2 separate regions of the Homo sapiens genome follow, and region 2 is linked to region 1. Evidence: fine-mapped expression QTL. Tissue or cell type: whole blood. Region 1 holds a variant in brackets; the other region holds the start of a gene. All regions are shown on one strand. Distances are from middle to middle.

Region 1 (8,086 bases):
TGAGATTGCGCCACTGCACTCCAGCCTGGGTGACAGAGCAAGACTCTGTCTCAAAAAAAAAAAAAAACCAAAAAATGCTGGGTGCGGTGGCTCATGCCTGTAATCCTAGCACTTTGGGAGGCCGAGGCAAGAGGGTCCCCTGAGGTCAGGAGTTTGAGACCAGCCTGGCCAACAGGGTGAAACCCCACCTCTACTAAAAATACAAAACAATTAGCTGGGTGTGGTGGCGCATGCCTGTAATCCCAGCTACTTGGGAGGCTGAGGCAGGAGAATCGCTTGAACCCAGGAGGCGGAGGTTGCAGTGAGCCAAGATCACGCCACTGCACTCCAGCATGGGTGACAGAGACTCTCTCTCTCAAAAAAAAAAAAAAGGGGCATCAGAAGGAAAAATGCATTATTAGCTCCTTTTTTTTTTTTTTTTTTTTTGAGACAGAGTCTCGCTGTATTGCCTAGGCTGGAGTGCAGTGGTGTGATCTCGACTTACTGCAACCTCTGCCTCCTGGGTTCAAGCGATTCTCCTGCCTCAGCCTCCTGAGTAGCTGAGATTACAGGCGTGTGCCATCACACCCGGCTAATCTTTGTATTTTTAGTAGAGACAGGTTTTCACCATATTGGTCAGGCTGGTCTTGAATTCCTGACCTTATGATCCATCCTCCTTGGCCTCCCAAAGTGCTGGGACTACAGGCATGAGCCACCGCGCCCAGCCTTATTCCCTCCTTTTATGAGACGGAGTCTCACTCTGTTGCCAAGCTGGAGTGCAGTGTCATGATCTCTGCTCACTGCAACCTCCGCCTCCCGGGTTCAAGCTATTCTCCTGCCTCAGCCTCCTGAGTAGCTGGGACTACAGGTGCGCACCACCACGCCCAGCTAATTTTTTGGTATTTTTAGTAGAGATGGGGTTTCACCATGTTGGCCAGGATGGTCTCCATCTCTTGACCTCATGATCTTCCCGCCTCAGCCTCCCAAAAGTGCTGGAATTACAGGTGTGAGCCACTGCGCCCAGCCTCCTTTTTTTTTTTGAGACAAGGTCTCACTGTCATCTAGGCTGGAGTACGGTGGCATAATCACAGCTCACTGTAGCCTCGGCCTCCCAGGCTCAAGTGATCCTCCCACCCCAGTCTCCCAAGTAGCTGGGACTACACACGTGTGCCACCATACCCAGCTAGATTTTTTTACTTTTTGTAGAGATGGGTTCTCACTATGTTGCCCAGACTGATCTTGAGCTCCTGGGCTCAAGTCATCCACGCACTCAGCCTCCCAAAGTGCTGGGATAACAGGAATATGCCAGTGTGCCCTGCTGTTATTACCTTCTAAAAGAACAGACCATTCTAACCCTATTGTGAGTAACAGCCACTCAACTCCACTGTTTGATGCCTCTGCTTTATTTTCTATCAAAACATACCTGGGCATACTTCATCAGCATGTTTTCTCTGGGAATACGATGGTTGTCCATTTTGAGGTAGCCATTGTCTATCTCATCATAACCAAATTTGGGGCCGATGTCACCAACGGTAATTCCTACCACAGATGAAAGGACAGTCACGAGATGTTTATGCTCTGGAATTTCTGGCTTTTGCTCCGCCTCTTCAGTTGGGCATTCTACCTTTTGCAGAAGAAAGTGCTCAGTTTCATTTTCATCTCAACATCAGATGAACAGTTCTTACCTGGCAAAGGCTTATGGGTCCCGATTTCACGAATAGGTACGATAAAGGCATGTAATCCATAGCATTTCCCCTTAGTGATGAGCTGGGCAAGAACTATTGCATGATTTGAAGTCTTTCCAACTGTAATATCAAAGAGAACAAGGGAGGGGTGGGCAAACGTTCATACATTTTTAAAGGGTAGAAAAAAGAAGAAAGAATATGTTAAATCTAACACTAGACTAAACCAATAGTATGTGTCCAGAAAGCCTTTCTGCTGACAGCATCACACCTAGCTTTCAGAAAGAAATTCCCTTAAGCTAATAGTTATTACTTTCTTTTCTACTTATTTCTCATACATTTACGTAGAGAAAATTTTAGGATAAAAATAAGAATATTAATTTAAACTACTTCCTTGTTATCCCTTAAGGCAGTGCTGTCCAAAACAGTAATCACTAGCTACATGTGGCTTCTTACATATAAATTATAAATAAATAAAATATATAATGTGAATAACAAAATCCTTCAACCACTAACTGTATTGGAAATATATATTCCAAGATAATAACTCAGAATGGAATAAGAAGATATAAAAGTTTCGGGTCAGCCGGGCACGGTGGCTCGCGCCTGTAATTCCAGCACTTTGGGAGGCCGAGGCGGGCAGACCAGAGGTCAGGAGTTTGAGACCAGCCTGGCCAACATGATGAAATCCCATCTCTACTAAAAATACAAAAATTAGTTGGGTGTGGTGGCACGCTCCTGTAGTCCCAGCTACTCAGGAGGCTGAGGCAGGAGAATCGCTTGAACCCAGAAGGTGGAGGTTGCAGTGAGCGGAGATCACACCACTGTACTCCAACCTGGGTGACACAGTGAGACTCCATCTCAAAAAAAAAAAAAAGTTTGTGTTAAAACTATTTAAATTTTTTTCTTTTTTTTTTTTAAGAGACAGGGTTTCACTCTGTCACCCAGGCTGGAGTGCAGTGGCATGATCACAGATAGTAGCTCACTGCAGGCTTGAACTCTTGGGCTCAAGTGGTCCTCCCACCTCAGCCTCCTGAGTAGCCAGGACTATAGGTCTATAGGTATGTGCCGCTATGCCTGGCTTTCCTCTCTCTCTCTCTCTCTCTCTCTCTCTCTCTCTCTCTCTCTCTCTCTCTCTCTCTCTCTCTATATATATATATATATATATATATATATATATATATACACACACACACCTCTCTCTGTCTATATACACACACACACACCCCTCTATGTACACACACCACACACACATATATTTGTTTGTTGGGTTGTTTTTGAGACAAAGTCTTGCTGTGATGCCCAGGCTGGAGTGCAATGGTGCAATCTTGGCTCATTGCAACCTTCCCGGGTTCAAGTGATTCTCCTGCCTCAGCCTCCCAAGTAGCTGGGACTACAGGTGTGCGCCACCACACCCGGCTAATTTTTGTATTTTTAGTAGAGATGGGGTTTCAGCATATTAACCAGGCTGGTCTTGAATTCCTGACCTCAAGTGATCTGCCCACCTCAGCCTCCCAAAGTGTTAGGATTTCACCACCAAGTCTGGCCGACATTATCATAAAAGCTCTACATTCTAAGCAAAATCTCATGACAAACCTTCAAAACATCCAATAAATGCTGAAAAATTCACTTACGCCCACCAGGCCACCATTTAATGGAGGTCACAGTAGGACTGTTGAGAATGAACTCCTGGGTTTCAGGGTCATACGTGGCTGTGGTTTCCAAGCCTCGAAGGTGAGTTCCTAAGGAGATAAATTACATTGACTTCAGTTAAGAGATGGGGAAAAAAATAGGCACAAGGAAAAATTTCCTGCACAGTCCTTTAAACTCTCATATCTCAGAGAAAAACAAAATCTAACAAAAAACACCTGTAGATGAGCTACAACTGGTTGATAACCAAGACACTGAATTTCCCACACTATCTGATGGTTTCCTATTAAGTTGAAAATCTAAGTGTCATGCATGTTCCATTTCTGTATTTGATTTGTTACATTTATTTACAGCAACTGAAAGAAAATATAAAGGCAACTTAGAATCACATTTTTAAGATCACAATATATGAATTTAACAGGGATGTTAACTGTCTTTTTAAACCCATCTCTGAGTTGCAAGTATGCCAATTTCAAGTCATATGTATTGTGTTAACCACACCAATTCAACATTCTTGAATTCTGTACTAATGAGAAGAATGAGATAACATGTGAGAGGAAGACATTTCAGCCAAAATTCGTATAAATTAAAAATGTATGGCTGTGCGTGGTGGCTCATGCCTGTAATCCCAGCACTTTAGGAGGCCGAGGCGGGTGGATCACGAGGTCAGGAGATCGAGTCCATCCTGGCTAACATGGTGAAACCCGTCTCTACTAAAAATACAAAAAATTAGCCAGGCATTGTGGCATGCGCCTGTAGTCCCAGCTACTAAGGAGGCTGAGGCAGGAGAATTGCTTGAACCCGGGAGGTGGAGGTTGCAGTGAGCCAAGATTGTGCCACCGCACTCCAGCCTGGGTGGCAGAGCAAGACTCCATCTCAAAAAAAAAAAAAAAAGAAAAAGAAAAAGAAAAAGGCCAGGCACAGTGGCTCAAGCCTGTAATCCCAGCACTTTGGGAGGCCGAGGTGGGGGGATCACGAGGTCAGGAGATTGAGACCATCCTGGCTAAAGTGGTGAAACCCCGTCTCTACTAAAAAAACAACAAAAAAATTAAAGCTGGGCACGGTGGCTCACGCCTGTAATCCCAGCACTTTGGGGGGCCAAGGCGGGCGGATCACAAAGTCAGGAGATCGAGACCATCCTGGTTAACACGGCGAAACCCCGTCTCTACTAAAAATACAAAAAATTAGCTGGGCATGGTGGTGGG[T/C]GCCTGTAGTCCCAGCTACTCGGGAGGCTGAGGCAGGAGAATGGCGTGAACCCGGAAGGTGGAGCTTGCAGTGAGCTGAGATCGCGCCACTGCACTCCAGCCTGGGCGACAGAGCACGACTCCGTCTCAAAAAAAAAAAAAAAAAAAGTATAAAAGTATAACTGTTATTGGGGAAATGACCTGAAATGTGACTTTTAAAAATTCCTAAAGGTCCAATAATAAGGTCTCAGTTGACCCTAGAGATTTCCAATGGCAGGCCTAACTTAGTCCTGCTGGTTCATTAATGTGGCAAGGAAGAGTTTCCAGTTTCTTATGTGTACTGGGATAGACAGGATCTTATGTTTTAAATCTTAACACAAATATATCAAAATTATTTGAAAAGAGTCATAGAAAAATGTTCTAGGTGGCAGTCTCTACAAAAATACTGTACTAAAGCAAACGTTGGGAACCTTTTACCAATCTGCTTTCATAACGCTTAGACCTCATTAAACACACTTTGAAACATTTAGAAGCTTCCAAGTTGAATAACCAACTTATGTGCAATCCACAACTTTCCCGAGTGGGAGTCAACAAATCAGACACAGACATCTTTCATCAAAGAAGCAGCTTTTACAGAAAAGCAGATAACATTAAACAGAACAGATAAGGACAAAATGTTTTCAAAAGCACAACTGAAACAAATAGTATTCCACTTGGAGTCTCATGAAAATCCTGTAAAATACTATTCAACACCAAATAAAAAGCAGCAGCTGTATAGAAATAAGGAGCAAGTGGCAAATACACACTAGACCAGTTTTTCTGAAACGTCAGAGCAGAAAAAGAGAAGCCATAAGCAAATGAATGGCAAACACGGACCCAATTCAGAGAAGATACAAAGAGGAACAGCGGCCACCTCCAGCCCACCCAGGTGCATGAAGAAAGCAGGTGGGGGGTGGAAAGATCAATGAAAGGTGGAGATACAGAGTCTGAAACCAAATGCCTGCAAGTTCGGCTTATCTTGGTTTTTTCACTCTCCAGCCAAGTCACTTGCAGAACTACTGATTGACTCAAAGTACAAATAACTCCAAAATGTCACACACGTCAGTTATAAGCTACTCATTTCCCTCAAGCAAATCCAAGAGTACACAAACTATTATTTGTATTTCTTCTGGAATTTGTACTCATTAAGGTATCAGTAGTAAAGGTAATCAGATAGTAATGAAGAAAAAAACAGCTTCGGGTTGTATATGCACACAGATTCTATACAACCTCAGTAACATTGAAAAACCACTTGGTAAATAAGGCCTGATTTGCAATTCTTGACCCTCTGAAGGGGAACTATGGTATAAAAAGGACAATCATTTTATCAGTATCATGGTCTTTAATTCCCACTCACCAAAGCAGTGTTTATACCAAAACCTGGACTCTGCAGAAAGAGCTCATTTAAACAGACCATAGAACATCGACACACCATCGATGGCACATGGTGGGCACTCCACACATGGTAAGCTCACAGGGGCCCGCCCAACCCAGAAGGTAGACTGAATACTCCATACCATGACCCATCTCTGTCTGGGCATAAGTGCCAATGATCTCCAAGTTCCAGGCGGGCATGAAGAAGCGCTCCTGCTGCTCCGCAGTTGCCTGGTGAAGCAAGGTGGGCAGGAACATGCCCAAGTGAAGATCCAGAGGCTCAGGCCGCCCTCGGTGCACAAAACTTCGAGGAAATATCAAGGATGGGCATTTGAGAGAAGAGTCATCAGGTGTGAGAGAATCAGCAATTTAAATAGAGCAAGGGAAGGAGACAAAAAAACCTTAAGTATGAATTAGTTGCGTGCACTTAATCATAGATGGGAGCACTGTCCCTTTCTGTATTACTTTATAGCTCTTGTTAATTTCCATTTTTCCTGAGTCGGCAAGGAGTACGAGGACAGGGATTGGTTACTGATTCCAAAGCCAATGCAGCACAAAACCACACGTGCAAGGCAGAGGATCCTCGCCCAGGAATTAAATCAAAGGAAATAAAGAAAATTTGAGAGGCCAGTGCAGTGGATCATGCCTACAATCTCAGCACTTTGGGAGGCCAAGGCGGTCAGATCACCTTAAGTCAGGAGTTCGAGACCAGCCTGGCCAACATGGCAAAGCCCTGACTCTACTAAAAATACAAAAATCAGCTGAACGTGGTGGCGCCAGCCAGTAGTCCCAGCTATTTGGGAGCCTGAGGCAGGAAAATCGCTTGAACCTAGGAGGCGGAGGTTGCAGTGAGCCGAGATCATGCCCACTGCATTCCAGCCTGGGTGACAGAGTGAGACTCTGTCTCAAAAAAAATAAATAAATAAATAAGAGAGAATTGGCCAGGTGCAGTGGCTCCCACCTATAATCTCAGCACTCTGAGAGGCCGAGGTGGGTGGATCACCTGAGGTCAGGAGTTCAAGACCAGCCTGGCCAACATGGCGAAACCCTGTCTCTACTAAAAATACAAAAATTAAGCAGGCATGGTGGTGCACACCTGTAATCCCAGCTACTCAGGAGGCTGAGGCAGGAGAATTGCTCCAACCCAGGAGGCAGAGGTTGCAGTGAGCTAAGATAACACCACTGCATTCTAGCCTGGGCGACACAGTGAGACTCCATCTCAAAAAAAAAAAAAAAAAGAGAGAGAGAATTTGAAAAGTTGTATAGGGCCAGGCATGGTGGCTCATGCCTGTAATCCTAGCACTTTGGGAGGCTGACGCAGGCGGATCACTTGAGGTCAGGAGTTTGAGACCAGCCTGGCCAACATAGTGAAATCCCGTTTCTACTAAAAATACAAAAAAAAAAAAAAAAAAAAAAGGCCGGGCACCGTGGCTCATGCCTGTAATCCCAGCACTTTGAGAGGCCAAGGTGGGCGGATCACCTGAGGTCAGGAGTTCAAGACCAGCCTGACCAACATGGTGAGACCCCATCTCTACTAAATATACAAAATCAGCCAGGTGTGGTGGCACATGCCTGTAATCCAAGCTACTTGGGAGACTGAGGCAGGAGAACCTGGGAGGCGGTGGTTGCAGTGAGCCGAGATCACACCACTGCACTCCAGCCTGGGCAACAGAGCGAGACTCTGTCTCAAAAAAAAAAAAAAAAAAAAAAAGTTGTATAGAATGGAGAATTTGCTGGGTGTGGTGGCATGTGCCTGTAATCCCAGCTACTTGGGATGCTGAGGCAGAATCGCTTGAAGCCAGGAGTCGGAGAACAGAGAATTTGAGTGGTACTGGTACAAGGATTTCCTCTGATGAGAAAGCGAGACAGAACATAGTAGTTCTCTCAGAGTGACAGTATGACCCCCAGATTATAGTTTTTCCTCGATGCAATTTCAATAATGCTTCTAGGCTGGGATTTTTTTTCTGTTTTGTCCACAAAACATCCAGCGTAGAACCATATTCCTCACATAGCTCTGATCATTTCATTCAGATTCATCATGTCAAATATTCGGCCACGCTCTACTGAAACACTTTAATACAAAAACTGACAGTGCTCTTCATCCCAATAATTTATTTCAGAAATTAAAAAAGACATGCAATTTCTAGTGAAGACCATAATAACGACAAGTTACAGATT
Region 2 (8,074 bases), 79 kb before region 1:
GGCTCTTGTGGGGAGAAGTCTTCGGCCATGACCCCCATGCTGACCCAGCCCTCGATAATCTCCACCTCCCAGTAGTAGGTGCCTCGGTCCAGGGCACCCTCGCCCAGCACCTGCTCACAATGGGTGAAGCGGGTGGGCGACAAGGGGTAGTTGATAGGACACAGCACCCTCTTGACACCTTTGGTTCCAAACAGCTGCAGGAACTTGTCTGCTGTGTCGCTGTCCAAATCCACAATATAGGCAACTGATCCCGTGGACAGAAGAGAGAGGCAGGGCTCAGGGCCAGGCTCAGAGGGCACGGCCCCTCCCCAAGTACCCACCCCCCCAAAACACAGCCTCTCCCCTGCTTTCCAACCGGCACAACCCAGCCCCGCCGGGGACCACCCCAGGAGCTGCCCTAGCTCTCCCCACAAACTGGGGAGAGGAATCCTAACCCTTGTGTGCCAGGGCCCTGCTGGGACCAGCCCAGCAGCCCTGGGAGGGCCCAGTGTGAGTGGAGGGGGCACGGGCGTCCACTTACACTTGAGGAAATAGTCCCTGGGAGCTTCACTCTCCAAGAGGTTCGTACTCTCGAGGTCTTGGGGCTCAGCATCAGCTGTAGAAGAGGAGACAGTGGTGAGAACGCCCCCAGACTGCCCCCCTCTGAACCTGTGACTACAATCCCTACCCCCTTCACTTCCTCCCAGAGTCCAGAGCCACCAGGGAGCAAGCACCACCCAGATGTGGCACGCTGTGCTCACACACATGCCCGTTGCCTGTGTTCTGCCTCTTGCCCCATGTGCTTCCCGGGCCACAGCCCTCTGGAGCTAGAGGGTGGGCTAGGAGAAGCCCCCTCTACCCCAGGTCCAAGGGGCTGATTGATCCCCACAGGGTGGCAGCTCTAGTCACTGGCAGGATTTGGGCTCCTCCCTGTGCCAGGCACAATTTTCCTCCTCCACTTCTGGATGGGCGCCAGGCCTGGGGGCCTGTGCGAGAGGCTGGCAGAGGGTGAGTCATCGGGGGGGCGTGGGGCGGTGCCCACCTTCCGAGTCCAGCTTCTGTGGCCCATCCTCGTTGCCACCCGGCCCCCTCAGCTGCTCCCACTGGTTGACGCAGGCCACGGCCAGCATGTCTCTCACTGCACGGACAGCTTGGGATGATTTGGTGAAGCTGAGCTCCCTCGGGGGTCCAGGCCCAGGGCCACACCCATCCTCCAGGGCCAGCCTTAGTGCCAGCAGCTCCTGTGCCAGACAAATGCCCATTAAAGTGCTGCTGGCCATGGCTCCTCCTTGCTGGGGGTGGAGGCAGCTCTGCCAGGAAGTCATGCACCCACTGCCTCCTCCTCCCTCCACCCCACCTGTCCCAGCTTCTGTTCCTTCCGTGGCCCCCAGAGCGGCCTTCACCTGCAGGAAGCTGACTGAGTCAGCTTCAGGGACCTGGCTGAGATTCTGGCGGGCTCGGCTCAGGCGGCTGCGCTGTTCCTCCTGTCGCCGCAGGTCACCCTGGGAGCGGCCTAGCATGGCAGCTTCCCCCTCCTCGATGAAGCCCAGCACCTGGGTCTGGAAGCCCTGCAGGGCGGCCGCAGCATCTGCAAACAGCCGGCTCACCCTCTCCCGCTCTGCTACGGCTGCACTCTGCACAGGACGACAGTAGAGGGGGCAATGAGGGCAAAGAACCGTCCCGGACTGTACCCCCCTCCTTCCCTGACCCCGGCTTCCCACCGGCCCTCTTGAGGGGACAGAGGGGCCAGACTGAGCCTGTCCTGGATCTGGGCCAGGTCAGGGGACACTTGTGCTCAGTAGGTATGGGCATGGTTTGTTTGGAGTGGATTGTTCCATGCTGAGGGAGGGGTGTTTGACCTTGATGAGGGCCACTGTGCGCCTGGACTGTGCAATGCCAGCACCCAGCTCGTCCATGCGGTCCTCCACGGCGCTCAGGACTTTGGACTGCTCAGCCTGTGGACAACACCCTCCATGAGTGTGAGGTCTGGCAGAGGCCACAGCCCTACACTCGGGTCCCAGGCCTTGCCAGGGGAGAGAAGGGGGTGACTGGGGAGTGGTATCTGTGCATCAGGTGGGACTGGAGTGGCCACGATGTCCCATAATATGCCAGAGGTGCCTGCAGCCCAGGCTGGTGCCTTTCCTGAACGCCTGGGGGGCGTGCAGGCTGACTGGGTGTCTGCCTCGGGTCTCTGACAGGAGGCCTAGTACAGGGCCGTCCGCTGGTCTCAGTGTTGCTCAGATGAATTTGAGAACTTCCTCCGGCGGGGAAGAGGCAGAGAGTAAGCCAGTTAGGTTGGGAGGTGGGCGGCGGAGGGGTGACTGCACAAGGAGGCATTAAGCTGTCCTGAGGATCACTGTTCCCAAAGAGCCTGCATCCACAGTCCAGGCCTGGAAAAAAGGGGATTCCGGGCAAATCCCCTAGGTCTTATGAGTCACTGCTCCAGGCAGGAGAAACGGAAAATCCCTTGGCCAGAGGCGCCAAGACCGGGCTGGAGGCCAAAGGAAACTGGGGGCGGGAGGTAGAGGCCGCGGCTCACATGCTCCCACCACTGGCCCCCGGAACAGCTGGACAGAGAATCTGTGTGCCCGGTCGCCCTCTGCCGCCCTCCTGCCGCCTGCCACACCCATCGAAAGCTGCTGCCTCAGCCCAGGGCAAATCTGAGCTGAGACCGGCGTGACCCTCCGGGCGGGAGCAGCAGCCACGCTACCGGAACCCCGCGGGCCTAACCCGGCTCCCTCCCGCCTACACCCCCATAGACCCCGGCCCGGCTTCAGGTCCCCTGCCCGCTCTTCGCGTCCTTGTCCTGTTCTCACGTCCCTCCTTCCTCCCTTCCCATCTCCATCACCGCCAGCAGATGACCTTGTCAAGGCTGGAAGGGACCGCAAAGATCCTCAGGTTAGAGGAGGAGATTAAGACCCAACCCGGGAAGACTGGGGGGTCCAAGGTCCTCGGCCCGCTCGCGCGCGGTCGGTCACCAGCCCCGGCTCACCCGAGTGTGCCCCCGGAGCCCACCTCCTGAAGCGCGCGCTCCTGCTCCAGCGGCACCAGCTCGTGGCCGCGGTGCTCCTGTGCGGCGCAGGCCTCGCACAGACACACGCGCTCCGCGCGGCAGTAGCGCTCGAGCGGCCGTAGGTGGCGCGGGCACAGGCTCTCCTCTAGCCGGCGCAGCGGCGGCACCAGGCGGTGTCCGCGGAGGGCGGGGCTGCGCTCGTGCGGGCCCAGGTGCGCGGGGCAAAAGGAGGCGAGGCAGGAGAGGCAGGACAGCGCGGCGGGCAGGGCCGCGCCCTCGGGGCACGCGTCGCAGCGCACTGGCTCTTCGCCCGCGGGCCACGGCTCGGGAGCGCAGGGGGCCGACGGCTCCGGGACACTGGGCAGCGCGCTGGGTGCCGAGGGCTCCGGGGCCAGGGCAGGGGCCGGGCCGGGGCCGGACCCGGGGCCCGAGCCCTGGCGGAGCTGCAGCAGCTCGGACAGCGTGTGGTTCTTGCGGAGCTGAAGGCCGTCGGGGAAGGGCTCCTGGCACAGCGGGCAGCGGGCCGCGCCTCCGGGTCCGCCGGCTCCACTCGCGCCACGATGCGGCCAGAGCGCGCCCAGGCAGGCGAGACAGAAGTTGTGGCCGCAGGGCAGCGTCACCGGCTCCCGGAGTGGCTCTAGGCAGATGGGGCAGCTGAAGGGTCCACTGCCGTCCATGACTCCGCGGCCGCCCAGGGCGCCGCCGATTGTGCTCCGGCCTGGGAGGGACCCGGGCCGTTCGCGCCGCGGCACCTCCCCCTGGGACCTAGGCCAGGGCTCCGGCCCCCGCCCGCCCCCAGCTCGGCCCGCCCCGCAGCACCGCCCGCCTGCGGGCCCGCGGACTCCCAGTCCCCGCCCAGACAACGCAGGGAGGCCTCCGAGCCCGCGCGACCCCCAGGGGAGTCCGCGTGGTCCTAAGGAAGGGCGCTGCTGAAAGGGTGTGAAACTGAGTGAGCGCGGGCGGAGAACGCGAGAGGTACAGTGGAAGGAATGGGAAGGACTCAGCCTCCATCCCTCTGGTCCTTCTGGGCCAGGCCAGCGCTCCGCAGGGGCTGGGCGCGTCTAGCTGTGTCATGCCTGCACCTTTGCGCTCGACCCCTCCCTGGCACCCTTAGCAAAGTTCCTGAGCTGCTGACTGCAGAGAAAAATAACTGCTGATGTACATATGTTTTTGCCCCTTAGCGACTCTTTTTTTTTTTTTTTTTGAGACAGAGTTCCTCTCTTGTCGCCCAGGCTGGAGTGCAGGGGCGCTATCTCGGCTCACTGCAACCTCCGCCTCCCGGATTCAAGTGATTCTCCTGCCTTAGCCTCCCAAGTAGCTGGAATTATAGGCGCTTGCCACCACACCAGGCAAATTTTTGTATTTTTTTGTAGAGACGGAGTTTCACCTTGTCCAGGCTGGTCTTGAACTCGTGACCTCAGGTGATCCACCTGCCTCGGCCTCCCAAAGTGCTGGGATTACAGGCGTGAGCCACAGCGCCCAGCTCCTTTAGCGACTCTTTACCCCAAGTAGGGAACTTGGACTTTTCTAGACCTGAAATGGGAAGTTGACGTCATTCCCTAAGTCCCTTGTCTGAGGAATGTAGTTCTGGCCCCTGGACACTGGGGACACCTGTGGTGGGGTTGGGGGTTCCCCAACTGGAAGTATTTAAAGCTCATCTAATTATGCACTTAAAGTGGTGCGTTTTATTGTATGAGTTATATCTCAATAATGTTAAGTTAAAACACTACACCAGAATGACAACAAAATAAGTAAAGTAGCACTGATTATAACCCAAAGTGTAAAATAAACATCTATGAGTCCATGCCGATATAAATAAATAATAAATTAACAAGCTGGGGAGAACAGACATATTTCGCATTGAAAATTCCAAATAATGTTTTTTTATTTTTATTTTTTTAGATGGAGTTTCGCTCTTGTCGCCCAGGCTGGAGTGCAGTGGCGCAATCTCAGCTCACTGCAACCTCTGTCTCCTGGGTTCAAGCGATTCTCCCTCCTCGGACTCTTGAGTAGCTGGGATTACAGGCGCCCGCCACCACATTTGGCTAATTTTTGTATTTTTAGTAGAGACGGGGTTTCACCATGTTGGCCAAGCTGGTCTCGAACTGCTGACTTCAGGTGATCCACCCGCCTCGGCCTCCCAAAGTGCTGGGATTACAGACATGAGCCACCGCACCCAGAGATATCTGTAATTTTGGTTAGTGACAAAGTCACAGGTAACTGCTCATACCACTCTGGTGTATTCTCTCCATTTGGAATAGAAAGAAATGCTGTGTTTCAGTAAGGTGCTGCAGCGTGGCTTCCTTCTGCAGGATCTGAGGGAGACTCTGTCCTGGGCGTCTGTCCCAGCTTCTGGTACTGGCTGGCAATTCTTGGCGTTCCTTGGCTTGTAGCTGTAAGATGCGCTCTAATATCAGTCTCTGTTGTCATTTGCCTTTTCTCTGTGTCTGTGTTCAAATGTCCTTTTTTTTTTTTTTTTTAGGGAGTCTTGCTCTGTTGCCCACTCAAACTGCTGGGCTCGAGTAATCTGCCTGCCTCAGCCTCCCAAAGTGCTAGGATTACAGGCGTGAGCCACTGTGCCCGGTGCCCATTTCCTCTTATCAGGACACCAGTTGTTGGATTAGGGCACGCTCTACTCCAGTATGCCCTCATCTTAACTCAGTCACATCTGAAAATACTCTATTTCCAAATAAGGTCACAGCCACAGGTCCTGGGGGTTAGGATCCGAATACGTCTTTTTCAGGGAACAGGATTCAACCTATAACAGTGCATAAGTAAGGAAATGTTGGAGAGAGGCCCAGGCCCAAATGTGCTAGAGGTCATGCATGTCCCCCGGTGTTCCTGGCCCTCTCTGTGTTCCAGGACCCTGGCCCTTCCCTAAACCTCAGCACACACTGCTGCTTGTCCCACACCCAAACCCTTGTCCACCTCTCCCACCGGGTCTGCATTCCTGCCTCTGTTTCCCCAGCTCTCTAGGCTTGGGGGGTGGGAAAATACCCTCAGGTCCCCTGAGACCAGACTAGAAATGTTCAGAAGGCACTTCATGAGTTCAGAGCTAAAGAGGAGAAAACACAAGCAAAAGAGCACAAATGTGCCGGGTGTGGTGGCTCACGCCTGGAATCCCAGGACTTTGGGAGGCTGAGGCGGGCGGATCACTTGAGGTCACGAGTTCCAGACCAGCCTGGTTAACATGGCGAAACCCCATCTCTACTAAAAATACAAAAAAATTAGCCGGGCGTGGTGGTGCACACACTTGTATTCCCAGCTACTCGGGAGTCTGAGGCAGGAGAATCGCTTGAACCAAGGAGGCAGAGGTTGTGCCACTGTACTCTCCAGCCTCGGTGACACAGCGAGACTCCATCTCAAAAAAAAAAAAAAAAAAAAAAGAAAAGAAAAGAAGAAAGAAAGAAGGAGGGACCCAGCCTCTTGGGGAGGGAGCTGGCTCTCCAGGCACTCAGGAACCCCTGTCTTAGTGTGTCTGGGCTGCTATCCCAGAACACCAGAGACTGGGTGGCTTATACACAACAGACACTCCTCACAGTTCTGGAGGCTGGAAGTCTGCGATCACGGTGACAGCACAGTCAGGGTTCCAGTGAGAGCTGCTTCCTGGGTTGTAGATGGCTGCCTTCCCACTGTGTCCTCACATGGCCAAGAGACAGCCAGAGAGCCTTTGGGGCCCCTTGGACAAGGGCACTCATGCCATGAATGAGGCTCCGCCCACCTGAAGACCCCACCTCCTAGGACCATCACCTTAGGGGTCAGGATCTCAACACATCAATTCTGAGGGTACACACACATTCAGACTGTTGCAACTCCAAGTGCCAAAAGAGCGGTGCAATCTGCTCCTGGGGGCTCCATGGGAAAGGCTGGGGAACTGTGGAAGTGGCATTTGAGCTGGGCTTTCACAGACTGCCAGGACTCAGGCGGGCAGAGACTGGGGTGGGAAAAGACCTTCCGGGCAGAGGGAGTAGCAGAGGGAGCCGGCCTGGGTGTGTCTGATTTGGCAGGAGGGTGGGTAATGAGTTCCATACATTGGTTTCCACCAAGAGCACTAGAGCACTTGATCAGGACTATCACTTGTTTGCCAAGCCCCAGGAGCGGTTGGGAGGCCCAGGCATCAGTGCCACCCTGCTCCGTGGCTTTGGTGCCCAGGCTGCCTGGGTTTGGTGAGGCCACAAACCTGCCTGGTTCTGGAAGGAGGGGGTGCCTTTCCGGTTGGGTCCCAGCCAACCCTCTGCTCCCCACCCACAGCCTGCTGTCCTCCCTGCTTGAAAAGATCTGCTCCCCAGGAGGAAAGCACAGAGATGCGGTTTGTCAGTGTGGTGGCATCTTGCTACTTCTTTTCTTTTTTTTTCAAATGGAGTCTCGCTCTGTCGCCCAGGCTGGAGTTCAGTGGCGCAATCTCATCTCACTGCAACCTCCACCTTCTGGGTTCAAGCGATTCTCCTGCTTCAGCCTCCCCAGTAGCTGGGATTACAGGCATGCATCACCACGCTCGGCTAAATTTTGTATTTTTTAGTGGCGATGGGGTTTCACCATGTTGGCCAGGCTGGTCTCAAACCCCTGACCTCAGGTGATCTGCCTGCCTCGGCCTCCCAAAGTGCTGGGATTACAGACGTGAGCCACCGCGCCCAGCCTGGCATCTTGCTATTTCATTTCCATTTCCAGAGTTTTGAAGTTGTTTGCCTAGTGTATTAGTTCACTTCAAAATGAATTGTCTAAGAGTCAAGGGCAAGGGTAACTGGCACCATGTGAGCTCAGCATGTTCACACCTGCCCTCATTCTGTCTGTCCAAGGACCCTATCCTAAAGGATGGCAACTGGAATTCCGATAGGTACCATGTCTTGCCAGAGGTCACATAACTTGTCCTGCAGAGGAAGCAGAATTTAAGCTCAAGAGGTTGCAGCTTGAATAATTATAAATCTCACATATGACTGTCTGGCTGTAGTAGTAGTGCTTGAGAAAAAAAGGAAAAAAATCAAACAAAAACAAGTGGCTGGGTGTGGTGGTTCACGCCTATAATCCTGGGACTTTGGGAGCCAAGGCACGAGGACTTGAGCTCAGGAGTTTGAGACCAGCCTG

What was found. PIP is the estimated chance that this variant, and not a neighbour inherited with it, causes the effect.
Region 2: TRIM47 starts here. The variant in region 1 is fine-mapped to the expression of TRIM47 in whole blood (INTERVAL, PIP 0.96).

What each region holds. Positions count from the first base shown.
Region 1 is chr17:75,954,164-75,962,249 of GRCh38, forward strand. ACOX1 (acyl-CoA oxidase 1) reads right to left here. Exons shown (of 14, transcript NM_004035.7): 3 at 6,052-6,212; 4 at 3,296-3,403; 5 at 1,665-1,784; 6 at 1,403-1,518. Among named protein-coding and RNA genes, the nearest start is that of FBF1, 17 kb to the left of the region's middle. The variant T/C (reference allele first, on the strand shown) is at 4,517.
Region 2 is chr17:75,874,880-75,882,953 of GRCh38, forward strand. TRIM47 (tripartite motif containing 47) reads right to left here and starts at 3,702. Exons shown (of 6, transcript NM_033452.3): 1 at 2,995-3,702; 2 at 1,839-1,934; 3 at 1,383-1,613; 4 at 1,022-1,220; 5 at 521-595; 6 at 1-244. The coding sequence starts at 3,669. It also overlaps a transcript of TRIM65 not described here. RefSeq lists enhancers at 1,245-2,160, 1,281-1,350, 2,161-3,076, 3,077-3,992 and silencers at 2,837-3,016, 3,027-3,406, 3,537-3,886.